Regions from separate parts of the Homo sapiens genome. Here region 1 is reported to be linked to region 2. Evidence: microRNA targets listed by miRTarBase, many of them from high-throughput screens and not tested one by one. Region 2 holds a microRNA gene; the other region holds the end of a gene's coding sequence.

Region 1 (3,000 bases), not on the chromosome of region 2:
GCAAAACTGTGGCTGTCCTCCACCCTCTGAACCGCCTACCAAGAGCCCTCCAGTGGCTGCTGGTGGGAACTGCAGCCTCTTCTCCCTCCCTTGCTGGTGGTTCCCTGTTCTGAATCTCATCCCTGCCCACAGGAGACCTACCTGATGAAGCACATGTCCAAACACACGGTGGTGGAGCACCTGGTGAGCCATCACTCGCCCCAGAGGACGGAGTCCCCCGGCATCCCGGTGCGAATCTCTCTCATCTGAGCCCACTGGAGGCGCCGCCCCACCCGGCCCACTGGCAGACACAGACCCAGGCAGCACCAGGCCCCAGCTCCCTCCGGGGGCCCTCCAGGAACCACCAAGCTCTCTCACGACCTTCCCAATCTTCCAGAAAGCTTGGTCCGCAGAAGCCCTGCCTGGTCCAGTCCGGGGGCGGCCAGGCCAACTGCAAGATTCTGGACTGTTTTGGTGGCATCCAAAGACGATCTCAGAGCACTTTGAACCTCTCTGTTGAGTTTTCTTTTTGTTCCCCACCCTTCACTTGCTTCACTGTTTTTTTTTTTTTCGTTTTTTTTTTTTAAGTTTGTTTTGGAAATAACAGAAAAGATATTTATTGGCCAGGAAGTTGGTGCTGCTAAGACCGAGAAATTTAAAGAATCGGACAGATGGACGCAGAGAACCAGAGGGCAATGTGGGACCTTCTCTTGCCATGGCCTCAGGTCTTGAGGGAAGGCTCGGGCCTAGGTTTCTGGACTGCAAAGGGGACCCCCAGGTGGGAGGGGCAGGAAGCAGCCGGAGTGAGCCCTTCGCCCCTGAGTGCCTGGCTCGCACCTCTCGAGCTGTGCCCTGGGCATCACTGAGCAGAGGGGTGCGGCAGCTTCAGGAGGCAGAAACGAGAGGGGTGGGAGATCCACAGGACCAAAGGGTGCAGTGATGGGCTGGGTGGCGGGCCCAGGGAAATGGGGTGGGGATGGGCTGGGTAAGACCTGGCCCTCCCCTGCTGCCCTGAAGACCACCCCAGTCTACCTCGGTGCTGGCCAGGAAACCTTTCGGCTACCTCTCCCACCATCCCAGACTGTGGGCAGGGGGATGGGGAGGGAGTGGGCCTGGATCTGGGACCTCCCTCCAGAATTTCCTCCAGATGGGGGCAGTGCCCAGGGAGGGGTTATTTGTCTTCCCTGCCATGGAGTGGGAATCCCCAGCCGAGGCCCTAGGCCCCTCAGCAGGGAAGGGATCCCCGGGGAGGCAGGTCCCAGGAGCAGACCCTGCCCCCAGCCCCCACAGACACACCCCAATCTGAAAGCCATGCGTGTCGGTGTATATAGGAACCATGTACAGAGCCCAGAGAAGCCCCCTACATCCCCCCGGGAAAAAAAAGAAAACTAGACAGAAACTCATCTATATATTCTGTATCTGGAGTTCCGTTTTGAATATTAACTGTGTTATTTTTATACACTTTTTAAGCCTTAACTCGCCATTGATTTACCAGTTTAACGTTTCCTGGGGTTTCTTTGCCCATGGGGTTCTCTGCCCCCACCCCCGGCCCTTTGTTTGACTTGCGTCGTCTGATACTCAGTATTGTAGCTTTTTGTCCGCATGTTACTCCCTGTAAATACGCTGTTATACATACTGTTAACACCCCTTTGCTTTTTCTATGGGACCTCCAGGCCACCATATTTAGAACTAGTTACCTTATTAAAAAAGAAAAAACAGTCTGTTGGCTTCTCAGTCTGCATCTTGGAGGCAGGGAGGTGAGGGCAGGTGCCCCTCAGACACTTCAGGAAGGTAGTTTGCATTCTATTTAAAAAAGGGAGTGGGGAGCAAATGAAAATCAAATGTGGGGGGAAAACACTAAAGGGGGCAAGAAACAAAGGAATTACAAACCCTCTGCTCTTTGTATTTCTCTGTTGTGAAGAATAAACTGTACCTGCACCCGGGTGGCGGTGGTGTTTGGCGTGCTCTGTGCGAGGGCAGGGCTGGGGGGCACCTTTCCATTGCTCCTCTCCCCTCCCCCGCCCCCCAGACTTGGAGAAGGAAGAAAGTGGCCTCTCACTGTGGGCTGGCCTCACTCCAGGTGCTGAACTGAGTGCTTTATGTTGATTGCCTCACAACTCCCTAAGAAGTGGGCAGCAAACCAAGAGAGGCCCTTTGCTAAGGATCATGCTGCAGTATAGTGGCAGTGACATAAACTGACCCAGCATTGCCTAGTTCTGGAGCCTTCTTGGATATACTAGGTCCACCAATAAGTCTCACTTCCACTGCTCCCTGAGGGGGCACCCCACCTATGTGGGGGGGGGGTCCATCATGAGTGCCTGATTTGTGGAAGTGATTCTAGTGATTGGAGGGGGAGTCCAAGACATCCTTGTCATACATTGTTTTTTCCCCATAGGAGTCAATGTTTTGACTGCCTAGGAAGGAAATTTAGTAATAAAATCCCCAAAAGCTTATCATGTCTGGCCCTGTGGAAGCACTGTGAGGGGGACAGTGCTTCCACTGTCCATGGAAGGTCATCATGGAGGTCATCTACCATGGAGGTCATCATTGGTTCGAACTCGTTTCCCTGAGTCCTCACAGTCCTCATGTGTCAAGACTTTGCTGCAAGTGATAGAAAGTCCAATCCAAACAAGGGTGTATTGGCTTATGTAACAGGACAGTGGTCAGGCCAGCTTCAGGGCTCAAAGGATGTGTCTCCAGCTCTCCACTCTGTTCTGAGTCAGCTTCAGCCTGAGGCGCCTGTGGGGTCAGCAGCTCTAGTCTCTCAGTCCCCAGGGTTCCAGCAATCAAGCCTCTTGTCTCTCTGACAAAAGCCTCAGTGTCTTCATCTGTTTTATGCTGCTATAACAGGATATCACAAACTCAGTAATTTATAATGAGCAGAAATTTCATTCTGTTCATGATAAATTCCAGTCTCATAGTTCTGGAGGTTGGGAAGTCCAAGAGCATGGTGCCAGCATCTGGTGAGGGCCTTCATGCCATGTCATCTCATGCCAGAAGGCAGAAGAGCAAGAGAGGGTG
Region 2 (3,152 bases):
TATGAAAGGTAGTTAGCAATGAAATAAGGAAGATATTGGGTTCCATCAAGATAACAGGTTCCTATGTTATGCTAGGAACCTATTGTATCTGACCAACAACAGTAAACATTGCTGACTTTGAGACCAAAATGCCAGTCAAACATTGGCAACCCAAATCTTTCTAATCTGAAAAGGGAGCTCAAAATTCTTCCCTGAATGTAAAAGTGTCTAAGAAGTCTTAGAATGGTGGACAGCTCTCCTGTTGGGACCTACTTGTTTACAAGAACTATCCCAGTCCCTGAACAACTAATTCCAATGTAGAAAAGTCTCTTTGCTGAAAAAAGGGAGGTCTTTAGCTTGAATAGGAAAATGGGTGAGATAAACATGACAAGTCAATACCAAGAAACCAGTTTCGCTAAAATTTGCTCTGTTCCCTCAAAGTTATTTTTTTGGCTTCATTATTACCTTTATTGACAAAGTAACTTTTCATTAACAAGCATGACAAATATTTCAGTTACACAGCCAACTGTGTCAAGTCGTTTCATATAATGAAAAAGCAGGGATATAGATTGTGTTGTTTATTCCTCACAAATTATTCTTTAGAGGGAAGACCCTCTAAAAGGCGGAGAAAGCTTTAAACATGTTTACTTGACAGCACCTGAAAAATGATGTCATTACAGTCTAAAGTGAACTGATCATCAATTTGGTATTTGTGTTTTGGAAGGCCTTTCCCTTGACTGTTTGAGGCAGTAGAAAGTTTGCATGATTGGGCTGAACAGATTGTAGCACCCACAGAAGGAAATAAGATGTTCTTGATATACAGTCATGTGTTGCATAATGACACTTTGGTCAATGACAGACCACAAATACAATGGTGGTCCCATAAGGTAGTAATAGAGCTGAAAAAGTCCTATCACCTAGTGACATCTTGATGATTCTGACCCTGTGCAGGCCTAGTTTAATGAGTGTGTTTGTGTCTTCATTTTTAAGAAAAAAGTTTAAAAAATACAAAGATAAAAAATTTTAAAGACAGAAAAAAGCTCATAGAATAAGCAAATGAAGAAAATATTTTTGTATAGCTGCATAATGTGCTTATGTTTTAAGCTAAGTATTATTGCAAAATAGTCTAAAAGTTTTAAAACGTTAAAAAGTTTACAAAGTAAAAAAGTTACAGTCAGCTAAGGTTAATTTAGTTTTGAAGAAATAAAATTTAAAAAATAAATTTAGTATAGCCTAATTATACAGTGTTTATAAAGTTTACAGTAGTATACAAAAATATTCTAGCACTCACTCAGTGACTCACCCAGAGCAACTTCCAGTCCTGCAAGCACCATTCATGGTAAGTGCCCTATTAAGGTGTACTATTTGTATCTTTTATACTATGTTTTTATTGTGTCTTTTCTATGTTTAGATACACAAATACTTACCATCGTGTTACAGTTGCCTACAGTATTCACTACCACATAGTAACATGCTATACAGGTTTGTAGCCTACAAGCAATAGGCTATACTATATAGCCTAGGTGTGTAGTAGGTTATACCTTCTAGGTTTGTATAAGTACACTCTATGATGTTCATGACAAAATCACCTAATGATTCATTTCTGAGGATATAGTAACCCCATCGTTAAGCAATGCATGACAGTATATGTAACCTGTCCAGGGGAATCTTTGCTTCCTTTTCAAGTCACATGGTTTGGACCCAGAACTATTAGTCTTTGAGAGTATATTTCACTCCTTCCTAATTCCAGAGCTGCTTGGATGAAGTTCTACTATGACCTTTAACATACAGTGTTTTTCATCTCTCTTATGGGACAGTTATGGGCCCAATGATGGAAAATTTCATGTCATGGTTATCCCAATGCATTTGATGATGGTGCAATGATCAAAAAAGATGCCAGTGATGACAATTGAACGTCCCTTTGCCTTCCCAGCCTCCTTCATATATTCTCAGGCATAGGATGACAAAGGGAAGTCCACGAGTCACATGAAGAAAGACTGTAGCCATGGGTACGCGATCAGGAAGTCCTCTGCTTGCCTCCACCCCCACCCTCCTTTCCATCACCCTGTCCTATGGGTACATGATCAGGAGGTCCTCTGCTTGCCTCCACCCCCACCCTCCTCTCCATCACCCTGTCCTATGGGTACATGATCAGGAGGTCCTCTGCTTGCCTCCACCCTCACCCTCCTCTCCATCACCCTGTCCTGTGGGTAAATGATCAGGAGGCCCTCTGCTTGCCTCCAACCCCACCCTCCTCTCCATCACCCTGTCCTATGGATACACGATCAGGAGGTCCTCTTCTTGCCTCCAACCCCACCCTCCTCTCCATCGCCCTGTTCTATGGGTACATGATCAGGAGGTCCTCTGCTTGCCTCCATCCCCACGCTCCTCTCCAGCACCCTGTTGTATTTCTTCCTAATATTGTTTCTCCACCATCTTGCAACTAACCACCATCTTCTTCCCAAAGTTTTGCTTGATGACTCATTCCAACTGAATCAATGCTCAACCTATATTTGGCACAGAGTTGGTGCTCAAATAGTTGCTGAATGGAATAATGACCCTCAAACTCTCCAAGGTAACCAAACTTTAGGGGAGCCTTTTTAAAAAAATGAGATAATGCTTCCATGTGTAGGATGAAAGGAGAAAGTATTTTGGAATTATGTCAGCCTAGGTTTGCACCCAGCTGTGCCACTAATTGGATTTAAGGCAAAGGCTTAACCTCTTGGAGGTGCCATTTCATCAACTGTATAAAAGGAAGAAAATAATCCCTATCTTGAAGGGTTTTTGTGAGTATTAAAAGAGATAGTATATATGAAAATGCCTAGCATGGTGCTTGGAACCTAAATAAATGCTCATTCCCTCCTAGTAGTATCCCAATAGTGCCGTCAAGCTGTCCTATATGGTATCTTTAGGATGATAAATAATAGGGAGTAACTAATTTCTGATGTGGTTGAATGTCAGAAGAGATAGAGATAAAACAACAGTCATAGGGAGTGATACTGTTAGGAAATTATAAAGGAAATGAAGACTTCTGTGGTTAATTTCTTGGAGTTTAAGAAGAAATTCACATTTTCCATTAATTATACTTACCAACTGAGTCTAACTGGCAACTACCCCAAAATGAATAAAACAAGCGGGAGTCAAGAGAGAAAAACGGCAGGCATCCTGTCAAA

The links. Region 2 holds the annotated microRNA hsa-miR-204-5p (UUCCCUUUGUCAUCCUAUGCCU, at 1,931-1,952, opposite strand). A microRNA usually pairs through its seed, bases 2 to 8, with sites in the 3' UTR of a target mRNA and lowers its output. Matches are read on the target gene's strand: a 7mer-m8 pairs with bases 2 to 8, a 7mer-A1 pairs with bases 2 to 7 and ends in A, and an 8mer does both.
Region 1: the mRNA of ZNF362 is a reported target of hsa-miR-204-5p. Seed matches in the 3' UTR shown: 7mer-m8 at 1,792-1,798.

What each region holds. Positions count from the first base shown.
Region 1 is chr1:33,298,798-33,301,797 of GRCh38, forward strand. ZNF362 (zinc finger protein 362) reads left to right here. Exons shown (of 9, transcript NM_152493.3): 9 at 133-1,922. The coding sequence ends at 249. Among named protein-coding and RNA genes, the nearest start is that of A3GALT2, 21 kb to the right of the region's middle. RefSeq lists a silencer at 1-154 and an enhancer at 586-1,535.
Region 2 is chr9:70,808,101-70,811,252 of GRCh38, forward strand. MIR204 (microRNA 204) reads right to left here and starts at 1,984; the gene lies at 1,875-1,984. The region is part of intron 6 of TRPM3 (transient receptor potential cation channel subfamily M member 3); the gene reads right to left.